7 linked regions of the Homo sapiens genome follow. The protein of the gene in region 2 interacts with the protein of the main gene of each other region in a pairwise test. Each region holds a gene or a part of one and is shown on either strand. Other genes may lie near its edges. The genes, in order: STOX1, NFYC, ZNF34, APOL4, PAX4, CSN2 and SMAP1.

Region 1 (3,500 bases), on a different chromosome or scaffold from region 2:
TGCCCACCTTGGCCTCCCTGGTCTCAAGTGATCCACCCACCTTGGCTGGGATTACAGGCGTGAGCCACAAGCTTGTTCTTTTTAATGGCTGTTTAGCATTCTGTTATGTGGACTATATATATATGTAACTATTATTTTCCTTTTTTTTTTTAAGAGACAAGGTCTCACACTGTTGCCCAGGATAGAGTACAGTGGTTCAGTCAGGGCTCACTATAGCCTTGGCCTCCTGGTCTCAAGCAAATCAGCCTCCTGTGTAGCTGGGACCACAGGCTTGCACCACCACACCCAGCTGCTGCTGCTTATTATTATTTTGTTAAGAATGAGGTCTCACTATGTTGTCCAGGCTGGTCTCAAACTCCTGGGCTCAAACAGTTCTCCCATCTTGGTCTCTCAAAGTGCTAGGGTTGTAGGCATGAGCCACTGTGCCCAGCCTATTTTCCTTTCTTTGACATTTAGATCATTCCCAATTTTTTGCTATTAACAAATCAATCTGCAGTGAGTTATTTTTACATAAAAATGTTTGTGGGCATTTCTGAGTTTTTTTCTTAGGATATATTCCTAGAAATCTACATTTTAAAAACGTATCATTACTTCTTTATTGGGGGTGCAAGACCTTTTCTTTTTTTTTTTTTTTTTTTGAGATGGAGTCTCGCTCTGTCACCCAGGCTGCAGTGCAGTAGCGCAATCTCAGCTCACTGCAACCTCTGCCTCCCGGGTTCAATTGATTCTCCTGCCTCAGCCTCCTGAGTAGCTGGGATTACAGGCACACGCCACCACGCCCAGCTAATTTTTGTATTTTTAGTAGAGGTGAGGTTTTCACCATGTTGGCCAGGCTGGTCTCAAACTCCTGACCTCAAGTGATCTACCTGCCTTAGCCTCCCAAAGTGCTGGGATTACAGGTGTGAGCCCCCATGCCCAGCTATTAAGTATTTAAGATAATCAAAACATGTCTTCAAATGTGAACAATGGTGGTGTAAACCAAAAAGCCATGGGTTCCTTTTCTTTCTCTGTGGCAAAAACAAAACAAAAACAGATGAGAGACATTACTCCTTGATAGGTGACTAGGAATTTTGATTTGCAAAATTTTGAGAAATTTAATTTCTTAAGGATTGCTTATTTTTAAGCAATATGCTTTCCTGAAAGGCTAGCTATAATTGACAGGCATTTAGAGGAAAGGGAAAGGAAAGTAACATTTGAACATCAACTGTGTGCCATGATGGTTATAAGGATTAGGGGGATAGAGATGAACAAGACATTGTTTCTACTTACAGGAAGTATACAATTTAGTTGGGGAGACAAACAATAAACATAGGCAAGTTGAACTTAAGAACAAAGCATGAGACTTTAACAGTCAAAGAGTGATGGAATTGAGTGATGGGCTGTTTAGAGAAAGACTTATTAGACGAAATATGTTTGAGATATATTTTAATGTAATGGACAGTTGATGGAGAGTAGCAAAGTGGGAAAAGGGAATGTCGAAAAGCAAAAATAGGCTGGACGCAGTGGCTCACGCCTGTAATCCTAGCACTTTGGGAGGCTGGAGCGGGTGGATCACGAGGTCAGCAGTTCAAGACCAGCCTGACCAACATGGTGAAACCCCGTCTGTACTAAAAATACAAAAATTAGCCAGGCGTGGTGGCACGCGCCTGTAATCCCAGCTACTCAGGAGGCTGAGGCAGGAGAATCACTTGAACCCGGAAGGCGGAGGTTGCAGTGGGCCAAGACTGCACCATTGCACTCCAGCCTGGGCAACAGAGTGAGACTCTGTTTCAAAAAAAAAAAAAGCAAAAATACTTTTTTTGTGTGTGTGACAGAGTCTCACTCTGTTGCTGAGGCTGGAGTGTAGTGGGTGCGATCTTGGCTCACTGCAACCTCTGCCTCATAGGTTCAAGAGATTCTCATGCCTCAGTCTCATGAGTAGCTGAGATTACAGGTGTGCACCAGCATGCCTGGCTAATTTTTGTATTTTTAGTAGAGACAGGGTTTCACCATGTTGTCCAGGCTAGTCTCAAACTCCTGGCCTCAAGTGATCTGCCTGTCTTGGCCTCCTGAAGTGCTGGGATTACAGAGCCTACCAAACAGTATTGTGAGTTAGCTGAAGCAAGGCATATGTGTTAGATAATGGGCTAATATAGCTTGTTCCTTCTAGAAAAGAACATTGTAATATTAAAAATATAATAATTTGCTTTTCTCTTCCATATGATTTCTCATAAAAGTAATAAATTTCACAGGAAGATATTGGCCACTTCAGATATATGGAAGTTTTTCGGGGAACTTACTGTTTCTGACTAGAACATACTTGATACTAGATCTGAGAAGAGATGTTTTTCAGAAAATATAAACTTCTGTGAAGGCAGCTGTCAAATAATTGAGATGCTATTGTGAAGCCTTTAAAATGTAAAGAGCACTTCGGATTTTTAAAGGTTAACTTATTTGATAAGTGTACCTTTGTATTAGTAAATGTACTACTTCAAAGTAGCAAATGGAAGTATAATGCCTTGGTTAGAAATTCAAGTTCCCTTCGAAGCCAATAATTCTGTTATTTTTAATATCTTTAGGACACAGAGTCTGGGATCTAATAATTCAGTCATTTTGGATGGACTAAAAAGAAGACAGAATTTTCTGCAAAATGTCGAAGGCACAAAGAGCAGTCAACCACTCACATCTAATTCCTTACTACCGCTAACTCCAGTCATAAACGTTTAATTTTCTTTTGGAAACCTACTTTTTTCTTTATAAAAAGGTAGAGCATTATTACAGAATCTTTCAATCATGTAAGAATTGAGTATATAAGAATTGTCTAAAGGCAAGCATATCTATACTATTAACCACATTACACATTTTGTTCTAATTACTGGCTTTTTTTCCTCTTTTGGTGTCTTAAGGCTTTTTGAAGCTTATTTTACTGTGAGTTTATTGGGAGTATATAGATTATTTTCGATTAAAAAGTGGAATTATTGGTCCCCTTCCAATTGTAATTATCTTGAATTTTTATACATTAGTTTCTCAAATATATAGAATGCCAATTTACTTCCTGTAGTGAATTTTTTTTTAACCTACACTAATATTGAGTTCTAAGTTAAGTGGATCTCACCAGATTTCAACACAAAATCAGAAAACAGTGTGTGTTGAAGCAGTGTCTGTTGCAAGAAAACAGTGTCTGCTGCAAGATATCTATGCAACCCTAGGTCTTTATCATTACCAAGAAAGAGTTTACATAAATGTGTTGGCTACTCTGCAACAAGAATTCCTTTAATCATTGCTGCCCAGGGGCTTCTCTTTGACCAGCTTGGACATGAACAAATGGTTCCCAATGTGACTGACAATGTCGAAAATTCCTGTGGCAAGAGGCATCTGGCTGTACTACTGTTCCTCTGGTTCCTCCCTACATTTCAGGCCTTCTTTGAGATGGAGTCTTGCTCTGTTGCCCAGGCTGGAGTGCAGTCGCACAATCTCGGCTCACTGCAACCTCTGCCTCCCAGGTTCATGCCATTCTCCTG
Region 2 (4,013 bases):
TCAAAAAATAAAAATTAAAAAAAGTCCGTTTTGGGAACAGAACTAAAGCCAAAAAATGGGAGAGGCTGGGGAGAAGCAAGAAAGTGGTAGCTGAAGGCAATGAAAATCTTTGTAACAACAGGTTGTAATTATGACAACCTAATACTTAGTAGGTGCTCAGTAAATGTTTGTTGAATGAAGCTGAATGAATAATATGTAAATAAAATGTAAAGGTAAATGAAATCTCAGCTAATATGAATGGCAATCCTGCTGGCCACAGAGCAGTTAACCTTCTTATCTATGTGGAATATTTTCCATTTGTCTCAGGCTCACTTGTTTATTCTGCAACATTTCTGGAATACTAACTTTGTATGGGCTCCTGCCCTCAGGCATCTTATAGGCTGTTGGAAGGAAAAGGACCAAAATAAGGAACAATAGTAAAAAATAGTCATGAAGCCTGTCATACCTGTTCCCTTTCTTGTTCCTCATAGCCTCATGGGTAGGCCTGCAGGGGTTGTTTTTGGCCATGGTGAGGACATTTGAGAGGACAGTCCTTGTCTTGCAGGCTGGCTGTGATGATTCCAGGAAATGGTACACAGAGGACACTGCTGGCCAAATGTTCCATAGGAACACATGTGCATGCACACCGCAGTCTTCTTTCTAGTTTACCGAGCTGCTCCCAGCAGTTGTCATTATATATGCAGTTCTACATGTCAGTACATTTATCTAAAATCCATTCACAGTCCACACATAAGATTTTAAGTACTTGTGATAAATGTTGTCTTTGTTCCACTCCCGGTCCCTCCCCTTTTCTCCTCCCCTCCTTTGGCCCAGAGGGCTGCACAGTGCCTCTCTCGGAAAAAGTACTTCATAGGTTTGCCATGAGGACTGCTGGGACCAAGGCCACTTGCTCGCCAGGGTGTTTCATATTCCAGTCAGATGATCTGGGTGATACGGGTTTGGTTTGGAGCCCACCTTCCAAGAATGAAAGAGGCCACTTACCACTTTGTCTGACACTTTGCAGTCCGCCTTCACTGGCTGAAAGACTGACTCTTAGGACTTCTACCCCAAACCATAGCACCTAGGGTCCATGTGTTCTGTTTGAGCCTCAGAGTTTGAGATGAGTGGGTGGTTGAGGGAGTAGGCATTCATTAGAGAGATGGGTGTGGGAACTATCTATTATGTGCTCCAGGATTCTCGATGTCACTTTGTGCTGCCAACTCTTGACGTAGCCATCAGTGCTAGATTAGGAGGGGTGCTTGCTTGCTTACTACCCATTGAGCACCTGCTGGGCACTTTATATGCATTGTCTCATTTGATCTTTATGACCCTCTTTTGGGTGGTGGGCTGGTGGATCAGACCCTGCAGCTGACATACCAACTCTACCATCTTGATTCTTACAGATTACACAGACAGAGGTCCAGCAAGGACAGCAGCAGTTCAGCCAGTTCACAGATGGACAGGTAGGGTACCCAACCTGGGCTGGGCAGAGGGTGAGGATTTGCGGGGCAGGGTAGCAGGTAGTATCTGGGTTTGGATGGTTAGGGCAACTGTCCTGTCCTCTACTAACAGTGAGTGGACAGAAATTGTTAAAACAAGTACGGTATTTAAATCAGGGCACCTATCCTTTAGTTTTATAGACTTAGTGGGAACTAAAATAATCTTAGACATGTAGCCCAAATTGCCATTTTACAGATGAGTAAACTGAACCCTGGAGATGGGAAGTGCCTTGTCCATGCTCCCCTAGATGTTCATTGCAGAGCCAGGACTAGAGAGCAGGTTTCCTGTTTCCCTCTCTAGAACTGTATTTTTTTCCCCTCTAAGCCATGATGCTGTTTTAATAGCATGGACTGTTGAGACGCAGAGAACACGTGACCTCTTGAGCTCTCTGGGTGCCTGAAATTCAGTCATTTTCAGTCCATGCGAGGAGAGAATCTTCCCTTTTCCCTCTGCTTTCCCCTCACAGTACAGTCCCAGAGACCACTGAGGACATGATAGGATGACATGCCCAAACTTGTGCCCTCTGCTGCTCAAAAGGGAGAAGAGCTGGCATCAGGACCCACCTCTGGCTTCTGCCAGCACCACATGCTAGGCTTACATGCCAGGGCTCCCATGAGGGCTTGGCTTTTGGCTTCTTTGGGGAGCGCCTGGGAAACCAAGTAGTCAATTAGCCCTGACCTTCCTAAGTGGCTGTGTGAGTATCTTCTCCACCCCTGGAGCGTCTTGGCTATAGTTAAGTGTTTAATACCAGGCCACCTCCTTAGCAGGGTCCATGGAGAAAATTCAAATTCAGTTTAGTTTCAACCTGAGCCAGATATTCTGAGAAAAGAAGGAGAGGAGGGGGTAATCCTACTGCCCCTGCCAGTGTAGATTACCAAGAGTTGGGGAAATGCTGACTTCCAAGCTGCTGGTACAGTGGTTCGAATTGCTTGTGTTTGCCACAGAGGAACAGCGTGCAGCAAGCTCGAGTCTCTGAGCTAACGGGAGAGGCAGAGCCCAGAGAAGTGAAAGCCACAGGAAATTCAACTCCCTGCACCTCTTCCCTGCCCACCACACACCCCCCCTCACACCGGGCTGGTGCCTCCTGTGTCTGCTGCTCCCAACCCCAGCAGAGCTCCACTTCCCCTCCTCCTTCTGACGCCTTGCAGTGGGTGGTGGTTGAGGTATCTGGGACCCCCAACCAGCTCGAGACCCATAGGGAGCTGCATGCCCCTCTCCCAGGGATGACCTCACTCTCTCCTCTCCACCCCTCGCAGCAGCTCTACCAGATCCAGCAAGTCACCATGCCTGCGGGCCAGGACCTCGCCCAGCCCATGTTCATCCAGTCAGCCAACCAGCCCTCCGACGGGCAGGCCCCCCAGGTGACCGGCGACTGAGGGCCTGAGCTGGCAAGGCCAAGGACACCCAACACAATTTTTGCCATACAGCCCCAGGCAATGGGCACAGCCTTCCTCCCCAGAGGACCCGGCCGACCTCAGCGCCTCCTGCAGGCTAGGACACTGGTGCACTACACCCCATGCCTGGGGGCCGAGATTCTCCAGCAGAAAGATGCAATATTTTTTGTTTCCTTTTTTTCCATTTTTTTCTCTAAGGAATCAATATTTCAATATGTTGAGTGTGTGTCCAATGCTATGAAATTAAAATATTAAATAACATATTTATGGCATTTTCTTGAAGAGTGTGGTTGAAGAAATATTTCTCCTTTTGTTTTTCTTTTTTTTTTGTTTGTTACTGCCACTTCTTTTTAGGAGCAAATCTCCCCAGGGGTGTACGGTATTTCTTGACTCTGGGAACAGCTGCTACCCCCAAGACTTGCCACGTTGTTCTGCCCTCAGATGGAATTAGGTGAATGTGTGTAGCTGCTTTTTCACTCGTGGTCCTCTCCCCATCCCTTGCTCTGACCCCAGAGCTCTGTGTATTTGCATCCAGAGGCCATGGAAACATTCTTTGCATTTAAGAGACAGATTTATTCCCTGTGGAGAGTGGGTGGATTCATTGCCACACTCTTTTCTCCCAGGGACCCAGGAAACTAGGACTTTGTGTGTTTGCTGCCCACCTCCCTTTTATTTTTTAAATGCATTAAAAACTGTGCTAGTCTCCTTTGCATGGACTTCAAGCTGCATGAAATGCAATAAATCTCATTTTAGATAATTTAGAGTCTGGGTTTCTGTGTCTGGGGGCATTCATGGGGCCACTTTGCTTGGAAAGGTTCATTTGCCCTCAGTTTGTGTGTCTGGGAGAGAGGGCCACCCTTGTGAGAAGGAGATGTTCAAAGCTAAGGGAACTTAATGCTGTGTACCTAATTCAAACTGAGGTCCTTAGCCGATCTTTTTTTTTCTGGCTCTGTTGCCCAGGCTGGAGTGCAGTGGTGTGATCACTGCTCACTGCAGCATCAATCTCCTGGGCTCAAGCAATCCTCCCACCCCAGCCTCCTGAATTGCTAGGACTACAGTCAGGTACCACCATGCCCAGCTAATTTTTTTTATTTTTTATTTGTAGAGACACGGTTTCACTGTATTGCCCTGGCTGGTCTT
Region 3 (3,310 bases), on a different chromosome or scaffold from region 2:
TGTGAAGCCGCTGATGCTTGACAAGGTTGGCACTGTACCTGAATGTTTTCCCACAGTAACTGCAATAATGCAATTTTTTCCCAGTAGGAATTTTCTGATCTTCTTTAACAACTAAGTTTGCACTGAAGATTTCCCCAGAGTTACGAACTGTATTTGTTTTTTTTGACCTGTGTACACGCTTATGGTTGTTGAGATATGATCTCTGTTCAAAACTTTGCTCACATATATCACATTTGTGAGGTCTCTGATCAGGAACAGGTCTTGACAGCAACCTGAGGTTTCCCCCAGACTCCCTGCTGCTCTCCCCGTTGGTCAGTGTGACTGCCCTGGGGCCTCTCTGCTCCACTAGCTTTTCCAGGCTCCCCTCTGACTTACTGATGTGGTCACAGGCTTCTACTGGCTCAGATCCCTGGGGATCTTCCTCACCAAATGTCTCCTGTGAAGTCAACTCCTTGTACTCAGTTCTGGTCCCAAGAGCTGAAACAAAAAACAGAACATCTAAGGGTCACCTGCTCTGACTCTGGAAGGTAGGCATGAGATGCTGCTGGCCACCTGTGGGGAACCAATTTGATCATCTCCAAAGTCCCAACAGCCTTGCAAAGATAAGAGCCTGGAGCTCAGAGGCTTATGCAGCTCACCTGGGGCCACAGTCATACAGCCCTTCAAACATTCACTCCTTCCTTCCTTGATTTGACACTCACACAACAAACCTCTCCTGGGTGGCCACTCCCCAAGAATGGAGAGTGACAAGTACCCAAGTGGGGTCCTGCCACATGGCCGCTCAGAGACTGATACCAGCAGCCACAGTCAGGATTGATTAGTCCTGGCCCCTACTTGCCAGCTGAGTCACCTGAGGCAACAACTCACCTACCTTTCTGAGCCTTGGTTTCTCCATCTGTGACCACATGGCACTCTCATGAGAACAAAACAGATTAATACAACAGACTGACCATGAAGCACTCAGCCCAGTGCCCAGCACAGTGAGTTCCAGGTGCAAGCACCTCATGACTGCCACTTTCATTACTGCTCTCTTCCTAGTCCTAAGGGGTCTATCCTTCCACCCCTTGCCTGGCTCTGCACTGCACATGAACAGGTGCTGAACACCAATATCTGCCAAGATGTGCAGCAGACGGTGCTCACACACTACTACAGGAGCCTATGCTGGAGCTGCTGCTTTGGAGGACGGCTTGGCAACCTTATCTAAAGCTGATCTATGAAAATGCTGACTCAGTGACTCTGCTCCCAGGTACACACGCGCCAGAAATGTATTCCGGGCGCCAGAGAGAGACATGCACAAGAGTGTCCACAGCAGTTCCTGTACAACCCCAAACCTGGACAACTGAATGTCCTCCACAAGTAGAAGGGAACATAAGTTGTGGTGTGTTCATACAATAGAACAATGGCAACCAAACAGACCACACTGCTACTCCATGAAACACAAGCAGCTCTCACAGTGTTCAGCAAAAGATGCCCTGTGTGAGTCTACACAGAAAAATCCAAAGGAGGAAGCAGCCTCTTGTGACAGGAGTCAGAAAGAAGACCCCTGTGGGGAGCAGTGGGAAATGGCAGAGGAGAGCCAGGGAGCTCCTGGGGAGCGGAAACAGTCTGTATTTTAATCTGAAGGATGATTTTTCATAAAAATTCACTGAGTTATAAACTTAGGGTTTGTCCTATTTCTATAGATATTTACATTCAAATAAGCAAATTTACAAAATAAGAAGTCCTTTGAGCCAGCAGTTCCTTCCTCAGACACCATCAGACACATGCAAAAAGGTGACCATCAGAGCTATCCAATCTTTTGGCCTGCACTTGCACTGAAGACATGACTGAGACTCATGCGCACAGAAATGGAAACACATTCCGTGTCTGCACAGCAGAACACACTATCATTTCTGTTAAGAAGCAGTGTCAGCCAGGCACAGTGGCTGTAATCCCAGCACTTTGGGAGGCCAAGGCAGGCGGATCACAAGGTCAGGAGCTTGAGACCAGCCTGGCCAATACGGTGTAACCCCGTCTCTATTAAAAATACAAAAATTAGCCAGGCATGGTGGCGTGCACCTGTAGTCCCAGCTACTGGGGAGGCTGAGGCAAAAGAATTGCTTGAACCTGGGAGGCAGAGGTTGCAGTGAGCCGAGATCACACCACTGCCCTCCAGCCTGGGCAACAGAGCAAGACTCTGTCTCAAAAAAAAAAAAAAAGAATGGCTCACACCTATAATCCCAGTACTTTGGGAGGCCAAGGTGGGAGGATCGCTTGAGCCCAGGGGTTTGAGACCAGCCTGGTCAACACAGTGAAACCCTGTCTCTACTAAAAATACAAAAATTAGCCAGGCATGGCGGCAGGCACCTGTAGTCCCAGCTACTCAGGAGGCTGAGGCAGAATCGCTTGAAACCAGGAGGTGGAGGTTGCAGTGAACTAAGATTGCGCCACTGCACTCCAGCCTGGGTGACAGAGCGAGACTCTGTCTCAAAAAATAAAAAAGCAACAGCATCTGAGCCAGGTGCAGTGGCAGTGGCTCACACTTTAACTCCAGAACTTTGGAAGGCCAAGGCGAGAGGATCGCTTGAGCCTAGGAGTTCGAGACAAGCCTGGGCAACACAGTGAAACCTCGTCTCTGTAAAAAAATCAAAAAATTAGTGTGAGTGACACATGACATGCCTGTGGTCCCAGCTACTCGGGAGGCTGAGATGGGAGGATCGCTTAAGTGCAGAAGGTCAAGGCTGCAGTGAGCCATGATCATACCACTGCACTCCAGCCTGGGTGATAGAGGGCGACCCTGTCTCAAAAAAAAAAAAAAAAAAAAGCAGTGTCAGTACATAACAGTGGAAAGGCCAGTGCTAGAAAAGGAATAGCAGAAATATACTACAACACAACTATGTCTGGGTAGTGAGATTCAGGGTGATGTGTAGTCTCTCACTTTTCCGCAGTGTATTAATTTAGAAGAGAGGGGAATTAAATGATAGCTCCATCATTAGGCCCTCATTATCTGGCATCAGCTCTGGAGCGCAGGGTTCTGTGGGGTTCCGCAGACCCTAACAGCACCCCTGTTCTGCACCTACTCACTCCCCTCTACACGGGACCTTGCCTGGAATGTCCATTCCTATTTTCCACAGAAATGCTGCCCTGGAGAGATTCTGCTCAATAATCTCCCCACCAAGGTGCCCAGACTGAGAGGGGTCACCTGGGCTTCAGCAAAGGCCACTGTCAGGCCTCCTGTGCTAGCCCCGATGAATCTGGCCCACAAACTCCTGATTCATTAATCAGACACCCTGGACCCCAATAAAGGCTCGTTCGGTGACTTGAGTTGGGG
Region 4 (4,533 bases), on a different chromosome or scaffold from region 2:
GAAACATGGCTGAGACAGGGGAGTGAGAAGGTCGCATTGCAGAATGGTGCCTGTGGCATGACGCCAGCTTTGTAATCATGAGATTCAAAAGCCACCTGTGGAATTGTGAGTGTAACTACAGGAGTGAGAGCTTAGATCTCTGTGTTTGTAGAAGCAGAATCAAACCTGGACACTGTTGGATTACTAAAATCACCCGTTTTTCTTCAATAGCAGAGTCACAAGGGCAGATGTTGGCTTCCCGTCTGCTCTCCAAGAGCTGTGCGACTCTGGGCAAGTCACCTCCCCTCCCAGCCTAAGATTTTCCCCTCTCAGAAACCTGATAGAGCTGCCAAAAGTCCATGAAATCAGGGGGGTAATTTCTGTGAAATCTGAGTCGTGGTCTTATTTTTCTTTTTCTTTTTTTTTTTTTCTTTTTTCTGAGATGGAGTCTCGCTCTGTTGCCCAGGCTGGAGTGCAGTGGCGCAATCTCTGCTCACTGCAAGCTCCGCCTCCCGGGTTCACACCATTCTCCTGCCTCAGCCTCCCGAGTAGCTGGGACTACAGGCGCCCGCCACTACACTCGGCTAATTTTTGTATTTTTAGTAGAGATGGGGTTTCACCATGTTAGCCAGGATGGTCTCCATCTCCTGACCTTGTGATCTGCCTGCCTCGGCCTCCCAAAGTGCTGGGATTACAGGCGTGAGCCACCGCTCCCGGCCTGATTTTTCTTCACCAAAAAGAGATGCCCATCAAGATAGAAAGCACTATAGCTGAAGCCTGTAATCCCAGTGCTGTGGGAGGCAGAGGCGGGAAGATCACTTGAGGCCAGGAGTTCAAGACAGCCTGAGAAACACAGGAGATGCTGTCTCTATGAAATCAAAAATTAACAAATTAGCCCAGCATGGTAGCGTGCACCTGTAGTCCCAGCTACTCAGAAGGTTGAAGGAGGAAGATCACTTGAGCCCAGCAGATCTAGGCAGCAATGAGCTAGGATGGCGTCAAAGCCCTGCAGCCTGGGTGACACAGCAAAACGGTTTATTAAAAATGAAATGAAAATGGTGATTTCTCAGGAGGAGCACACTGTCTCAACCCCTCTTTTCCTGCCCAAGGAGGAGGCCCCGCAGCGACATGGAGGGAGCTGCTTTGCTGAAAATCTTTGTCGTCTGCATCTGGTGAGCTTGGCTCAGAGCCCTGAGGTGGGAGGGAGGGCTCCCTGTCTGGGCTGCACAATTGGGCAGGGCTTGGGCTGGGCCAGGAGCCATGTGGGTTTTTCTAGGAACCAAAATCACTTCCCGGAATTGACCAACTGGTAGACTCGCCTAGAGGGGACGCACTGTGTCCTAGTTGAGGCTAACAGTCAGTATCCAGCCTCAACATTCAGCAGAGGCCCCAGATCAGCGTCTGAGCCAGGCCAACAATGACCAAGGAGGATGGGATCCTGGGTGCAGCTCATCACAAGCGTCGGGTGAGTCCGAGGCCCCAGCTCTCTGCCCTCCTGCTCCTCTGCTCTCTCCTGGTCCTCCCAGTTCTACTGGCTCATGGTGTTGAGATGGTTGCCTTGGCCTAGGGGGTCACACAGTGAACAAAGCAGGAAGAAGGCGAAGGGATGCCCCTCTCCTGTCACCCCTGTCCCTTACAGCAAGAAGCGCCCAGACGCCCCTCTGCATACTCCCCTGGTGAATGCTGCCCAGGACTGGGTCCCCCTTTTACCCTTGTTGCATGGGGGCCCCAGAAGACAGACATCTGTGTGTCTGAACCCTGAGACAAAGGCAGGAAAGGGAAAGAGGGAGGCGAGTGGCTTTTGAGGAGGGGGCTTTAGTATGAGAGCTGGAGGATGGAACCCCATCAGGGGGCCCGGGAACCACTGAGCTGTTAAAATAAAGTCTGCAAACAAAGACCAGCTGCTGGAAGTGGGTGTGCCAGGGAGTGCGCAGAGACACACGGTGAGAAAAGAACAATGGTAATGCTTGGAGCCGCCCCTAACTGGGATGGGCCTGAAATGGTATTGTTATTATTTATAGTATCATTATTAGTCATTTTCATCTTATTTGTACCCTCCCTCTATCTCTCCTCTCCACCTTTTCCTAACATTCTATCACCAGTTTTATGTCTTCCATTAGCAACTTTGTAGCTGTAAACAATTTACTTACAACTTTCTTATACCCTCAGTTGTACCCAGTATTTCTTAACTTCCATCTTTAAAAAATGACAATATTAATCCTCCTTCTCCTTTGTTCAGTGCTTCACATCTCAACTGCTACCTTCGTGCCTTAAAGTTTGTACTAATTGGTATTGATAACAAGATATTTAGTTCTCAAATTTACATGTTGTGTATATATTTTTTGTCCTGATAAAGAGACTACTGAGAGCCAGTAAGACTGAAAGAATGGGCATCTTCATATACTGCTAGTTTGAGTGTGAATTGGTACAATTTGCATGTAGTGTGGCTCTAGGTATAAAACATTTTGAGATGTTGATACCCTCTGACCTAGTCATTCTACTCCTACAAATATCTTAAGGAAATAAAATCAAATGTGGGCAGTTTTACGTGAAGGAGGGTGTTCTTTGTAGCATAATTTACATGAAGAATTAGAAACACCCTAAGGTCCATCAGCTAGGGGAGGACAGCAGAGGGAACAGGGCAGCGCCAGGAGGGCTCGGCAGCCACAGCAGGGGCTAGGCCGGCATCTGGCAGGATCCAGGTCTTTGTGGGACAAAGGATCTTAGAGAAGCAAGGGGGACACAGGCTGTCCACTGCAGCACCAGTGAATTCACCAAGACGAAAAGTTGAGCACGGAGTGTGAGACATGGATTTGCAATGAGGAGTCATTTACCATGAGCGTGTATACATGACTCAATATTGTATATTTAAGGGAGTAGAGCACAGTCATTGAAGACATGAGGTTGAAGCAGAAGTCCTGGCTCTAGCAATAGAAAACACTGGCAAGTTCCCTAACTTTTGTGGATTCCTCTGTGTTCAAATGGGAAAGTGGTACCCATCTCCCGGGCTGTGTGTGATCATTGAATGAGACACATGTCAGAAGCCCTGCACATCACAGGCCCGGCGCGACCGCTCACGCCTGTAATCCCAGCACTTTGGGAGGCCGAGACGGGCTGATCATGAGGTCAGGAGATCGAGACCATCCTGGCTAACACGGTGAAACCCCTTCTCTACTGAAAATACAAAAAATTAGCCGAATGTGGCGACGGGCACCTGTAGTCCCAGCTACTCGAGAGGCTGAGGCAAGAGAATGGCGTGAACCTGGGAGGCGGCGCTTGCAGTGAGCCGAGATCGCGCCACTGCACTCCACCTGGACGACAGAGCGAGACTCCGTCTCAAAAAATATAAATAAATAAAAATAAAAATAAAAAAAGAAGCCCTGCACATCACAGACACTCAATACAGACTGGCTATCATCAATTAGTTGTCACACATGTTTCCGGTCATTGTTAGAACGTTCCTTCCCATCTCTATTTCTGCGTATAGACTGTGTAGTTTCTGTAATGATCAGATGGCTGCCCCTCCTCTGATTATCTTCTCCTCATTCTCCAACAGGACAAGCGGACTTTTCCTTGGTGTGAGAGTGAGGGAAGAGGGAGCTGGAATGAGTTGAGTGTCTGTAAATAGCAGATGATGGGGACTTGGTGATAGAGAAAGAATCTGGGTTAGGTTGGTCTTGGCATTTGCTGCCACCTCAGAGGGATCTGCAGAGGCCCAGCTGTTCAAGCCTCCCTTTGCCCATAGGTGGCTCACATTCAATCCCACAATTTGTTTTCTCTTCCTCAAGGGTGCAGCAAAACCATCCAGGCTGGACAGTGGCTGGACAGTTCCAAGGTAAGCCTTTCAGAGACCTGGCTGCTGGTAGGCTCGCCTCCTCTTCCCTGGCTGGTTCCTACCCACAGCTAGAATGGAGGGTGGTGTCTTCAAGGCTGAGTGAGCCCCAACGGAACCCAGACGGAGGTGGCTGATGAGGCTGCCCCAAGCCCCAAGAGAGGCCACGTGGAGTCCCCTGACCCAGGGTTCTGGGGGGCATCTGCATCCTGACCTCTCCTCAGCGGGTCATGGCCCAGGTGCCCACTTCCTCCCTACCCTGACACCTAGCAAATGACTTAAGTGGGGCAGGACAGCCTTGGGGAAATGGAAACAGCAGGGTTGGCTTTTGAGGGTTGGCCAGGAGTAGCGGAGGGGTGGGAGAGGAGGTTGACCAGCAGCCCTGACCTCTCACCTCCCTCTCTGCTCCTGGCTGACCCTGGGGTGTTTCCAGCAGAGGCCGGTCCCCTCCCTCCAGCTCTTGCCCTGCACCAGCCCCTCTGCTCTGAGTGGCCCTGTGGGTAGAGTGACCCAGCTTCCCACTGAACTGGACCCCATTCTGGTCTTGGCCATGTCCCCTCTGTGTGACCTGGAGCTCCTTACTCCTCCTCACCTGCACCACTAGGATATTTGCCCATGTTGTCATGAGGATCAAACATTACATGGGTACCTGGGCCAGCCAGTGCCTGCCACACAGTACGGCCTCCCTAAGGGGTGGTTCCCATCCCCTCTACCTGACCCCT
Region 5 (4,608 bases), on a different chromosome or scaffold from region 2:
TCCCAGAAGCCCTCAGAGCCTGCAACAGCCCCAGGCTCTTGCCTTCAGAGGAGCCCTTTCTCCCTGCTTCCTGTCCCCATCACTGGGTAAAGGTGCTGGCCCATTACCTTAAGGATCCGTGAGATGTCACAGGGCCGCATTCCACTGACTGCTAGCCGCACAATCTGCTGCCGGGTATCCAGAGGCAGGGGCCGGCCATTCACAAAGAGCCCCCCAAGCTGGTTCATGCTGCTGATCCCTGGGCGTGAGACAGAGGTATCCACACACCACCTCTCCCACTGCCCTGCCCGCCTGTGGAGAGGGTCACTCAGGCCCCTCCAGCCTGGCTTCCCACCACCGAGTGCATCCTCTCCTGGGAGACTGCATCCTTGCTGCCCCCAGGCTGTCAACGCAAGCTGCTTTCTTTGAGAGCTGGCTCACGGGTGAGTCTTTGTTCCTTGCCCATACCCGCCAACTCTCCTGATCTAAGGGAAGCAGGACAGGGCAGGAAGGGAGGGACTGGAAAAAGCTTCCCCAGAACATTGGCCAATAGCAGATGAAACAGTTGATGGAAGCAAAGCCCTGAGGTCTTCCCCTGTCTCTGTTGTCCTCCCTGTCTTCCCACTTCCCCCAGGCTCCTCACCGTCCTGATGCATGCTCCAGGCTGACCCTCCTCAGAAGGATGAGACTCCAGCTGGGAAGGCTGGGAAGGGAAGTTCCTTCTAGGAGCTCCTTTTCCAGCTTGGGGGCTGGCTCTGCAATAATGGGGGGTTATTTGGGTGAGGTCTTTTGCTTGAAATGGTCCTGGGAGGTAGTGTTTTGTGATAGAGGGTCAGGTTCCTAAAATTTGCCAGTGGGTTGGCTAAAATCAGAAAATTCTAATTCCTTTTATTTAAACCTTTGTGTGATAAAAACTAAAACACTGCAGGTTGGCTGAGGACTGGATCTTTCTTGAAGTCCTGATAAGGGGCTGGGAGGATTGAGAGGGTTCTCCTTTCCTACACATTCATTAGAAAAGTTTGGGGAGGTAGAAAGGGATAATGCTTTCAAATGCTCAAGCTTTCCCCTTTCCAAATGGACAGCTGTTGTCTCCAGCTGCTCCTAAGCCTTCTCAGCCCTGGAAGACACACCCGAGCCAGAGATTCTGGGGTCCTCAAGTTCAGGGGTCCACCTTCACTATTAGGCAGTCCTCGGTTGGGCTCTCCAAACTGCCACCCAAATGCTGCACTTCAGAAAGGCTTGCTCCTGTTTTTTTATACTCTCCAGGAAGCTCTAGGGAAACTGGGACTCAGCTCTAACCCACCAGGCATTGAGGCTCTGGTCCTACACACTGGGCATAGAGATGAACACGCCTGAAGAGCCGGCTTCTCCTAGGAGACGCATCTCTTAGCATCTCTAACCTGCTGAGATTGTTCATTCTGTTCATTCTCTGAAGAGTTCTAGATCTCACAGTGAAGCTTCAATTTCAGAGACGATGTTTCTGGTATCAGACACTCATTCATTCAACTAACATTTATCAAAGGCATATTGAAGGGAATGAGAAGCAGGAGAAGACTGTCCGCTGAGCAACATAGAAACCGTCATGAGCCCAAGCGAGTCTCTGAGCAGCAAGGGACACAGGTCCCACAGGCCACCATACCTCTTCTACTTTCATTAGTAATCAATGGGAGTTGAAGATGCCTCCTTTCATGCCTGGAACCCTGGTAGTGCTGGAGATCACCCCAAGGAACAGCTTATGCACAGAACTTTCTTATAATAAGCGTGCCATCTGGGCTTAGTTAATTCATCTGCAGTTGTATGCTGAATAAGATATTAAGCATGAGCACATTGCTGGTTGTTCAGGATGAAGGCAGTAAACAGAAAAGGGTAAAGTCTTTGCTCTCCAACACATTACAGAGCAACTGGAGAAAAGAGACTAGCACCAGTGAAACAAAGAATTACAAAGAGTTTGGAATCCAGAGTCTACTTATTAAGTTCAGTCGCTAAATTGGCTTTTACTCACTTGTTTCTAGGTAGGTAGAGGCACAGACCCCTTCAAATTCTCATCTTTCCAAAAAGTCGGGAAAGAAGGCAGAGGTTTTCCAAAGAGAAAACTGAGGCACAGATTGGCATTGCCACAAGTCAGGGGCTGTCCAGAGAGTAAAATTCAAGGTTTAGAAGCCAGTTCCTCATCAGAAGCTACAATTTCTGGCTCCTAATCCTGGGCTCTCTTTCTCTGCTCCCACCCCTGTTTCATGTTTGTGTAATTGCCACAAAAACAATGGAGAGAGGAGAATCAAGCAGGGACTGTAAAGGGCTGTGCCAAGACAGGGTGAAGGAGCTCAAAATATCAGCCAAACCCTAAATCCTTGATGGGACTCAGTTCTCCTAAGTGACCAGAATTCAAAAGAGCAGTAGGGATGCAGGTTCAGTATCCAAACCTAAATAATCTCCAAACCTAAATCATTATGCCCCAACTCACAAACAGAAACCCCATTCCCAATAGCCACAACACACATTCCCAACATTCATATTAACATGTCTGAAAAAATAACTGGTGCTTGCAAGATGGAAAAACAGGAAAGGGGGTGGAAGGGGCAGGAGGGTTGTAGCTGCAAAGGCAGAGTGGGAGAGAAGTTGGGTTTGGCCACACAGAGGCATGGAGACAGCATGAGAGGCAGGGCAGACAATGAGCCTGCAGGTGAGCTACCTGTGTGGAGGAAATGAGGTGGGAGCTTCAGTGGGAGGTCTCAGCTTCTGAGACCCCTGCAGGCTCCAGGGGTGGTGATGATCTGGTCTTGGTAACAGCCTCCACTCTGCTCCTGCTTCAGTCCTGCCAGGGGGTCCAGAGCTATAGAGAGCCCGTGCTCAAGAGCAGAGGGCAGCCTTCTGGGAGTAGCCAGTGATGTCACAGGCCATGAGCAGAGGAGAGAGGAGGAGGGAGGTGTGCATGGGCTGACTGACACCAGCCCTGAGGCAGGGCAAACCACAGCCAATGACCCACTGTGTCCTTCCATGGGGAATCCTCAGAGCCCACTTTGTGTCCACCTACCACCCGGAAGCAGGGACAGAGCCATTCTCAGACAGGCAAAAGTGTACCCACACAAGCACCAGTACTCCTGAAGGGCATGCTGAGCATGGAAGATGGGGAACTTCAGGTTGTGTTCTTAAGGCTTTGAATACACAGAAGCAAAAAGATGCCTTCCCGAACCACCAACACAGCTTCCCAGCCAGAATGCACATACATGGGCTTTGGGGTCAACTCCTGAGTCGTGTGTGTTGCTATAAAAGATAAATGAGTATACAGACTGTTGCCTAAATACTGACTGAGTTGGCTCCTAGCACTCTGAGATAATGAGAGTGAATGGAGAAGAGTGTGAAGAGTGTGTGTCACCTAGCACCAGCTGTCCCCAGAGAGTGTCCTAACCAATTCTCCAATTGACTCCTTGACTGAGGTGACACCAAGGGTGAATTCTTGCCTGGAAATGGAAGGATCCTGGACTTCAGAACACTGACAATGGTAGTGGTGGTGGAAATGAGCCTCAGGATAGTCAGAGATGCATGTGGGTGTTTATAAGGAGGCTTGCAGCAGGATTTTCCTTCTTCCATCTTTAGATGTTAGCAGGCTCCATTCTGTTAGGGATTTGATGCTTTTAGACTCTAAGTTAGTAATGGCACTGCTGTTTCCACAAAAGACACCACAGGTTATCTGGGTCATTGGCGAGGTCAGAGGTATCAGTAGCTGGGCAGGTGGTGCCTGTGGAGTGGGATGCTGAAAGTGAAACACAGCCTCTAGTGCATGTAAATTTTGTTGCCAGTCATCAGGGTCTTGGGCAGATGGTCTTTGGGTCCATTCCACACCTCAGAGTCTGTGAAACCATTGCAAAAGTTAGACTGGAAGTAAGCAGGGTGTAGGGCAATAAGACTAGTCCCAGAAATCAGAGAATGGAAGACGTATGTCATTGGTAAATGTTTTGAGGTTTTGGGGGTGAAAGTGGTTGTTGTGCATTCAGCTTGATCCTAGGGTTGGGAACTCTTGCTCTCAAAGGCCAAATATCACATAAGTGAGTTTTCCACTTTACCCTGATACATACTCTCTTCCTCTTCCACCCTCCTCCAGCATCCTCAGACTGGTCTTGGGGTACAGGGGAGACTGCAGAGGGTGATTTCAGGACCTCGGGCAGGATAGCATTTGCCCAAGTGTCCTTACAGCCCATTCCATCCCCGGGGCAGCTGGGGACTGCTGGTCACTCTACTTAGCCATGCTTGGGTGGGAGGAGGTCCCCAGTAAGGCCTGTGGTAGCCCTGCTCCTAGTCCCCCATTCCTGCCTCATCCCTCCCCGCTAGATCTGCCCCTGCGTCTAGGGGCTCAAGGCTTATGTCCTGACCAGCTATTCCTATAGACAGCTGCATGAGGGTGGAGATAGGGGTATCAGGGGGAGCAGGGACAAGCCCTAGCAGATGGTGGTGGCAGCGATTTACCCCATAAACTACCCTCTCCCTCCGCCTTTATGACGCGCTCTTGGGTCTGAACAAACAGAGGCTTTCGACCCAGAGGTGATGGGGGAGGGAAAAGTGGTAAAGGGCCCTGGCAGGGGGGCCTAGAGAGCCCAAAGGCTCTGCCACTCAGCCCTCTGCCCAGCGCGCTAG
Region 6 (4,579 bases), on a different chromosome or scaffold from region 2:
GTCTTAGGCTACTGCAATAACATAACATAACAACTTCCTTTACTAGGTTACCTGATTTGTTGTCATAAAGTCATGAAATCCAAGAAATTTTACAATCCATTTTTCTTTCAAATCTCTAATATATTTGCTTCCACTGAATTATGTCACAGTGCATGCCTGACATTCACAGTCATCCATGATCTGATTCTATCAAACCTCTGCAATTGTAACTTGCAATGTATGCCCTCTGAATATCCTCAAACTGGTATGTTGCTCTTTCAGTTCCTGTGTTTTCTTCAGCCAAAATATCTATCCCCATTTAATCATCTCGCAAAATTCTACTCATTCTCTAAGGCTCAACTAAAAGAGCAGTTCCTTAATGGCAAGCTCCCCTGCCACACACAGCACAGAGGCCCTACTTTTCCAATTCAGGCATAATTAAATTGTACATATTTCAACCAAATGCTACATTGATAGATAAATTTTATAAAAAATTATCAGAAGGTTAAAACATGGGCTCTGAGACTCACATGTGATCAAACAGAATCACATGTAGTCAGACAGATCTGAGTCCAACTGGTATCTTTGCCATTAACAATATGGTTTTGAGCAAGTTACTTAACCTTTTGGCATCTCTGTTTTCTCAACCTAAATATGAAGAGGAGAGCTACCTCATGATGTTCTTGTGCAGATTATACAAGATAATATCTTTGCTTAGTGCTTGGCAAAGGGTTAGAACTAAGCAAAAAAACCCATCATTAATATTATCATAATTATGCTTGACCTGAAAAGAGATAATCAATATTAAAAGGTAAATAAAACTCCGTGATACTTTGCAAAATTTTTATTACAGATTTACTGAAGATTTTGCCTATACCAGCCACCCAGATTCCCTCTTCAAGTTATTCCATTACAGAGGAAAGTTTATTTATCTTGTGTACAAAATATTTGTTTTAACTAAATTATTTTTTTTTCCAAATCAAGTGGCCCTGGGAGAAACAGTTTGCCTCACATAACTAAGCTACCATCATGGACTTGTTATCTTGTCAGTTTCTTCATTTCAGCATAAAGCACTAACAACTGCTTAGGTTCACATGAAACTGTGGCCTTTGTGAAGCCCTGTGTATATCTAGCGTTCACATACAATTTTCCCACAACTGAAATCTCAAGGCCCCACTAGGCCCTAAAGAGACCTAATTATGTCCATAATAACTTGGGGACAGGGCCAGAGTATCACTGTCCTCCAGTCATTGTCTTTTGTTATTGAATAATTGCATTTCCTGGACAGGTTTCTTTTATCAACTTGTGAATTGTTCCCTTGTTATAATGATGCCCAGAATTTCTGGGGATATGTAATAGGCAGAAATCATTTTCTAATCATGTGGACTTCTTGGAATTAAAGCTCGCTATTGATCTTATTTCAAATCACAAAATTAGTGTGTCATTAAATATAGTATATAAACAGTCACAGAAGCTGATGGACCATCATCCATCCAGCACTACCTTCACTTCTCTTCAATCTTGGAAAAACGGTAAGAATTTTAGATACAAATTTGTTGTATCTTCTCCTAACCATGTATTTCAAAGTAGCTTGAGCTATAGAAGGAACGTAGTTACTTAAAATATAGTGTTTGAAATAAAAGTATTTAAGGTAGTACTGAGATTATTTTTAACACTTAGGCTAAAAAAGATAGAAGTGCCCAGAAGAATTTGGTAATGACATATAGCCTTCATGAGTTTAAGAAAATATAATAGCTAATTTTATGCATATATATATATATATATATATATATATATATATATAGTATGAGGCTAGTTCATAGTTAATATTAAAAGGAGATTCATTTTTTTAATTAATCTTCCAATTTGATTTAGCATATCACAGTTATAAAAAGAATTATACTTCAATTATAGTATGGGTAGATAAATAATTACTGGAAAAGCTTTGTCCAGCAGGTAGTTTACAGCAGTAGCATACTGAGTTGAGAAATGGAGGGAATGGTATGGGGGCATTTACTACTTTAAATGTTTATAAACAATGTTTTTAGAAGAGTTTACTCATCAAACTTGTCTAGAGCCTCAAACTTCCCAGTTTATTATCTAGTTTGTAATATTTCAAAACAATATTAAAATGAGACAGAAATACAGAATTAAGTAAAAAAGAAACAATGTGGTTTACTTTGTAAGAAAATTCTTAATGGGGTAGAAAAGACTTGGAAACCATAAACAAAGATAATAGATGATATAAAAGAAAAAGTAGCTTAGAGTGTACCAGTTGATAATGAAGCTCTGGCTTAAAAATTAGTATATAAAAGTATACCAGTATGTAGTATATTTATAGTATAGAAATGAGTATAAAAACTAGTATAATTAGTATTAGTATATATTAGTATATTAGTATATAAATTAGCATTGTAATTATACATTCGTATATAAAATTATTATATATATTAGTAGATTAGTAATAAAACTAGTAAAGTTTATATTACTTATAAAATATAGAAAATGCTGTGGGATCTTCCCTATGTGTAATTATATATAATAGAGTGTTATATTCTGTTTCTGAACCCTGACATAAAAATTTGGGAACTTATAGTGGTCTTAGGCAAAGTAAAATTAATAAAAACTTAATTAACATTCATAAAAAATCTAGAAAAAATATTTGTTTTCTGTAATAGAATTATGTTCAACCTTCAAATATTGAAAAGAACATCTCTCAAATAAATTAAAGACTTTTTTGATGAAGTATTTTAGTTCAAAAATTTAGTTCAAAAATTGAGTTTCAATATCTGAGAATGAAGATTTGAGTGGTGAGTAATATTGTGGCACAAACATTATTTTGAAATAAATTACAAAAAAATGTAAGAACACATAACAAGGAGATGATTTAGTATATTTTGGTCAAAAATATTAACATATATTTCACAAGAAGAGGTAGTCCCAAGCTTAGCAGTGGGCAAGAGGCTCTGACCCCTTGGCGGATCATCAAGAGAATCGTGTGTACATTTCAATAAAGAGAAGAGAAGAAGCCTAGTGTACAATATCTAAAGTCATGTGGCATAAAGGAGAACAGACATTATTAGCTATGTGGGGAAGATGAATATAAACGGAGAAGAAACAAACTCAATAGTCCAATAAAGTCTCTGGATAGTGACACAAATAAGGAAAGTGTTAAAATGAAAACCTCAGTCTTATTGGAAATGAGGAGAAATAAACTAAAATAGTCATGGTAACCGTTTAGTGAAAAGAAAAAAGGTAAAAATAAAATGTGACTTTTTTGTACACATTTTCTTGATCAGTCTCTTCCAGTAGAACTGAGGCTCCATGAGGGAGTAATATCAGGACTGTAATATTTTGTTCATTGCTGCGGTCCTGGTCCCTAGACAGTGTCTGGCAAGAACAGATTCTAAAGAAATATTTTTAAGTTAATGAATAAATCTTTTTTTAAATTTTATTTGTCTTTTGAAATTATTATTATTATACTTTAAGTTTTAGGGTACATGTGCACAAAGTGCAGGTTTGTTACATATGTATACATGTGCCATGTTGGTGTGCTGCACCCATTAACACGTCATTTAACATTAGGTATATCTCCTAATGCTATCCCTCCCCACTCCCCCCACCCCACAACAGCCCCGGTGTGTGATGTTCCCCTTCCTGTGTCCGTGTGTTCCCATTGTTCAATTCCCACCTATGAGTGAGAACATGTGGTGTTTGGTTTTTTTGTCCTTGCGATAGTTTGCTGAGAATGATGGTTTCCAGCTTCATCCATGTCCCTACAAAGGACATGAACTCATCATTTTTTATGGCTGCATAGTATTCCATGGTGTATATGTGCCACATTTTCTTAATCCAGTCTATCATTGTTGGACATTTGGGTTGGTTCCAAGTCTTTGCTATTGTGAATAGTGCCGCAATAAACATACATGTGTATGTGTCTTTATAGCAGCATGATTTATAATCCTTTGGGTATATACCCAGTAATGGGATGGCTAGGTCAAATGGTATTCCTAGCTCTAGATCCCTGAGGAATCGCCACACTGACTTCCACAATGGTTGAACTAGTTTACAGTCCCACCAACAGTGTAAAAGTGTTCCTATTTCTCCACATCCTCTCCAGCACCTGTTGTTTCCTGACTTTTTAATGATCGCCATTCTAACTGGTGTGAGATGGTATCTCATTGTGGTTTTGATTTGCATTTCTCTGATGGCCAGTGATGATGAGCATTTTTTCATGTGATTTTTGGCTGTATAAATGTCTTCTTTTGAGAAGTGTTTGTTCATATCCTTTGCCCACTTTTTGATGGGGTTGTTTGTTTTTTTCTTGTAAATTTGTTGGAGTTCATTGTAGATTCTGGATATTAGCCCTTTGTCAGATGAGTAGATTGCAAAAATTTTCTCTCATTCTGCAGGTTGCCTGTTCACTCTGATGGTAGTTTCTTTTGCTGTGCAGAAGTTCTTTAGTTTAATTAGATCCCATTTGTCAATTTTGGCTTTTGTTGCCATTGCTTTTGGTCTTTTACACATGAAGTCCTTGCCCATGCCTATGTCCTGAATGGTATTGCCTAGGTTTTCTTCTAGGGTTTTTATGGTTTTAGGT
Region 7 (4,013 bases), on a different chromosome or scaffold from region 2:
CCTCCTTTTTTTTCTGACTAGAGTGCGGTGGTACCACCATAGCTCAAAGGACCTTTGAACTCCTGGGCTCAAGCTATCCTTCTGCCTCAGCCTCCCAAGTAGTTAGACCTGCAGGCACTCACCACTACGTGTGGTGTGTAGTTTTCAATTTTTATTAGAGACCACTGTGGTTTCACTATGTTACCCAGGCTGGTCTCAAAACTCCTGGCCTCAAGTTATCCTCTCACCTTGGCTTCCCAAGTGCAGGGATTATAGGTGTGAGCCACTGTTTCTGGCCCACTGCATATCTGTTTAACCTTTCTTAGTTTGAGACTTACTTGCTAAAAATAATTAAACCCTCCAGCTATTGCTCTGTAACTATTTACCTTAATGTGTAAGCTTCAAAACAGATAGATAACGTTGTAAATTGTTGTGTTAGAAATGATGAGACAGAGTGGAAAGTAACTGGGGGAGGCAGCTCTATCTAGAGTTGTCACAGATGTCCCAGATGTATGTTTGCCAGTTTATAGATGTAATTTCTCAAATTTAAAAGCAGGATATTTGAGGATAAGTTGCATGTGCATAATCTTCCTCCTGTGTAATTAAGGAATTTGGGGGGGCATTATTTTTAATTTTACTATATTGTACTTACTAGCTTTAATGTTGTTGTGTAGAGCAGTGTCACCTTTAGATAAACAGCATGTACTTAAAACAGAAGGCTATGTTTAAAAAAAGCTTTATTTTTAATTTTTAATTTTTTGATACAGAGTCTCTCTCTGTCACCCAGGCTGGAGTACAGTGGCGGGATCTCGACTCACTGCAATCTCTGCCTCTGAGGTTCAAGTGATTCTCTTGCCTCAGCCTCCTGAGGAGCTGGTATTACAGGCACCTGCCACCATGCCTGGCTAATTTTTGTATTTTTAGTAGAGACCGGATTTCACCAGGTTGGCCAGGCTGTTCTCAAACTCCTGACCTCAAGTGATCCGCCTGCCTTGGCCTCCCAAAGTGCTGGGATTACAGGCATGAGCCACTGTGTCCAGCTACTTGATTTTTATTGATATCTCTTACTATATACATACATTTTTCATAATCAACTAATTTATAGAAGTCTGTTAGTAATATGATTCTGAATATTTGGCATATTTTCCAGATATTGCTTTTATTTTTCCATTTTTACTTTATTAATTTTACAAGCAATATGTGAAAAAATCTGAAGCAATTTTTAAAATTATTATGAAAGAATATATTCAAAGGTATGAAGACTTGTACAGCTAAGACTTGTATTCTTGTATTCATATGTGAGTTTTTTGGCAGTGTTTTTCAGAACTTTTTGACCATGAACTGAAGAACTAACATTTTGTAGCACACCTCAGTTCATATATGCGTATTATATGTTACTGAAACAAAAGTTTATATTCTTGCCATACAGCTTAGCAATTGAGTGCTACTATTGCTCTCCAAGCCCACAGTGAACTTTTCCCTGATCACATCCTCTTTCCTTACCACCAGTTACCTGCCTCAGTTTCACGAAATTTGTAGATACATTTAATTAATATGCAGTATGCTATTATTTTACATATTTTTCAATTTATGTAAATGGTTTCACACTGTATATATTCATCTGTGACCTTTTTTAATGTCAGTGTTATATTTGAGATTTAGCCATGTTGATGCAACGCTTTTTGAAGCAGTCCTTGTTTCCCCTTCTTGCCAACAATTAGTAGTTAAAAATTTTTTTTTCCAGAATGTTGGGTGCAAAATGGAAGTAACTGTAGAGTTAAAGAGCACTTTCACTAATTACCAGTGAGACTGTGCATATTTTCATGCTTATTGGCCATAAATTTCTTCTGTGAATTATTCATTCATATCTTTTTGCTTATTTCGCATTGGGCTGGTTGTCTTTTTCTTATTAATTTCTACATTTAATTTTTGAAATGTCTTTGATTTTTTATTTGTTGTTAATCTTGTGCATATCTTATGCATTTAATAAAGAAATTATTTTTACAGTAGGGTATTATTACTATTCCTGATTCAAATATGCTAAGTGAAGAAGCTGTTTATATAAATTAGTTTTAAAATCTTAGAGTGGAGGGGAAGTTTCTAGGAAAGCAAAATGAGTAAAATCAATAAGGTTCTTAAAGATTGCCAAGACACATGTCTTCTTAGCAGACTGCCGCCAGTACCATTTGAAAATTTGAGCATGTGACTTCTGTAAGCTTCCATTATAATTATATAAAACCGAGAATGCTTCTAATATGCTGTTATGTTTATTTTTGTTTTTAACATTTGCTTTTTTTTGTGGTTTCTTCTTCTAAATTAGGTCCTCGATGGGCTTCCTGGAATATTGGTGTGTTTATTTGCATCAGATGTGCTGGAATTCATAGAAATCTTGGGGTTCATATATCCAGGGTCAAATCAGTCAACCTAGACCAATGGACAGCAGAACAGATACAGGTAAACATGACGTTACCAAGAAATTATTTAAAATATTTAAAATGATTTAAAAATATTTAACCCTTCTTGCATCTAAGGATTAACATTGAAAAGTAGTTTTGTATGTTGAAATGGCATATGCCACGTATAAAATTGGAATATTTGAATTTTCAGTTCACAGATGTTTATTTCATTTTGTGTCTATAGTAAAGTCAGTTTTTAATCTATACTTTCTAAAATGTTGATTTTAAAGTGTTTTTAAAGTATCATTTCTCTTGTTGATAAAATTTGCCAGTATAATTCCATAGTTTGTTTTATTTTTTTTTCAGTGGAGGGAGCCTGGGTAAAGATAAAATAAAAAACCACCTGTAGCCTAAAAATGGACTTGAGTAATTTCCTTTCTGTTCTGAGGTGTTCTTAGTTTTCAGACAAGGCCCAGAAGTTGTAAGACAACCCAGTGAACAAATGTTCTTATGACCAACCTAAACTTACTTATGAGTGGTTTAACTCTGCTAGAGGTAGATTTGTAGTTTTAAAAGTTTGCCATTTTCCCAATGTGACAGTCTTAAATTCTCAAAATCTTACTTTTTATCTTTAAGGTTGGCCACTATTGTAAAAATGAGTACTTCTACTGGTCTTATTATGTAATTCACAGTGAAGTTACACCACTTATTTATGCCCTTTTGAAATTACTTTTAAGTCACTATGAAGTGCTAAATACATAAATATATGTGGTTGAGACTCAGTGATACATCTCAGAATCTTAACCCAATAGTTTACATGAATGGGGTGAAGTAAAGGTAGAAAAACAGAATGGAGATCTTCAGGCTATAAAGTCAAGCATAATTTATTTGGTTCCATCTTAAATTAGTTTTTGAGCTTTTCGCTGGCTAGAGCATAAAGGGAAATGCAATCTTTTATGTACTTTCAAGATCCTTGAGGAGAAAACATACTAGTTATATCAAAGAAGCAGAGCTTTTTAAACACTTCCTGTAAGGCAGTGTTCTTAGTATCTCTGTAGAATATGGTAACAGATGTCATGATGTTGTAAGTCTTTTTTTGTTTGTTTGAGACAGGGTCTTGCTATGTTGCCCAGGCTGGTCTCAAACTCTTGGACTCAAGCGATTCTCCCATGTCAGCCTTCCAAGTAGCTGTGACTATAGGCATGCACCACCATGCCCAGCTGATGTTGTAACTCTTTTTCAAGAAACGTGTGAGGTGTAGCTTGACAGTATAACTTGGTGTTTGTAATGGGTTATGGAGGTACAAAGCATTCACGACCGAAGTATCCTGCTTTTTTAATGGCTTATTTCAAACTAAGGATAAAACACGAGATCCTTCAACAGTTCAGTTATTCAGAAATATTTTTCTCAATTAGGTTGTTGAGAGGAAATGAATAGCAAATTATTTGAGATGGGCAGCTGTATAGCTTAGAGTAGAATTTTGTAATCAGAGGGCTGCAGTTCACTGGTTTTCTTTGGCATAGGTTACAAGTACATGGCAATATATTGGATTTTTTTTTTTTTACAATGTAAGGATTTTAAAAACAGTTATTAAATAATAATATTTGAAATTGTATTTGAACATTATTTGATTGCATT

What was found.
Region 1: the proteins of NFYC (region 2) and STOX1 interact in binary tests that used the Homo sapiens proteins (3 or more experiments, as listed by UniProt).
Region 3: the proteins of NFYC (region 2) and ZNF34 interact in a two-hybrid assay, tested with the Homo sapiens proteins (one large-scale study listed by BioGRID).
Region 4: the proteins of NFYC (region 2) and APOL4 interact in a two-hybrid assay, tested with the Homo sapiens proteins (one large-scale study listed by BioGRID).
Region 5: the proteins of NFYC (region 2) and PAX4 interact in a two-hybrid assay, tested with the Homo sapiens proteins (one large-scale study listed by BioGRID).
Region 6: the proteins of NFYC (region 2) and CSN2 interact in a two-hybrid assay, tested with the Homo sapiens proteins (one large-scale study listed by BioGRID and IntAct).
Region 7: the proteins of NFYC (region 2) and SMAP1 interact in binary tests that used the Homo sapiens proteins (3 or more experiments, as listed by UniProt).

Annotation. Positions count from the first base shown.
Region 1 is NC_000010.11:68,890,031-68,893,530, forward strand, and holds the end of STOX1 (storkhead-box protein 1), read left to right. Parts: intron 1-2,558; coding exon 2,559-2,706; 3' UTR 2,707-3,030; downstream 3,031-3,500.
Region 2 is NC_000001.11:40,767,974-40,771,986, forward strand, and holds the end of NFYC (nuclear transcription factor Y subunit gamma), read left to right. Parts: intron 1-1,382; coding exon 1,383-1,442; intron 1,443-2,423; coding exon of another isoform or gene 2,424-2,735; coding exon 2,736-2,855; 3' UTR 2,856-3,630; downstream 3,631-4,013. UniProt on the Homo sapiens protein: Component of the sequence-specific heterotrimeric transcription factor (NF-Y) which specifically recognizes a 5'-CCAAT-3' box motif found in the promoters of its target genes.
Region 3 is NC_000008.11:144,774,129-144,777,438, forward strand, and holds part of ZNF34 (zinc finger protein 34), read right to left. Parts: intron 478-3,310; coding exon 1-477. UniProt on the Homo sapiens protein: May be involved in transcriptional regulation.
Region 4 is NC_000022.11:36,198,611-36,203,143, reverse strand, and holds the start of APOL4 (apolipoprotein L4), read left to right. Parts: upstream 1-1,334; 5' UTR 1,335-1,409; coding exon 1,410-1,444; intron 1,445-3,535; coding exon of another isoform or gene 3,536-3,588; intron 3,589-3,767; coding exon 3,768-3,814; intron 3,815-4,533. UniProt on the Homo sapiens protein: May play a role in lipid exchange and transport throughout the body. May participate in reverse cholesterol transport from peripheral cells to the liver.
Region 5 is NC_000007.14:127,615,294-127,619,901, forward strand, and holds the start of PAX4 (paired box protein Pax-4), read right to left. Parts: upstream 2,850-4,608; 5' UTR 2,669-2,849; intron 2,108-2,668; 5' UTR 1,982-2,107; intron 735-1,981; 5' UTR 636-734; coding exon 623-635; intron 239-622; coding exon 108-238; intron 1-107.
Region 6 is NC_000004.12:69,962,613-69,967,191, reverse strand, and holds the start of CSN2 (beta-casein isoform 1 precursor), read left to right. Parts: upstream 1-1,463; 5' UTR 1,464-1,511; intron 1,512-4,579. UniProt on the Homo sapiens protein: Important role in determination of the surface properties of the casein micelles.
Region 7 is NC_000006.12:70,730,079-70,734,091, forward strand, and holds part of SMAP1 (stromal membrane-associated protein 1), read left to right. Parts: intron 1-2,299; coding exon 2,300-2,433; intron 2,434-4,013. UniProt on the Homo sapiens protein: GTPase activating protein that acts on ARF6. Plays a role in clathrin-dependent endocytosis. May play a role in erythropoiesis.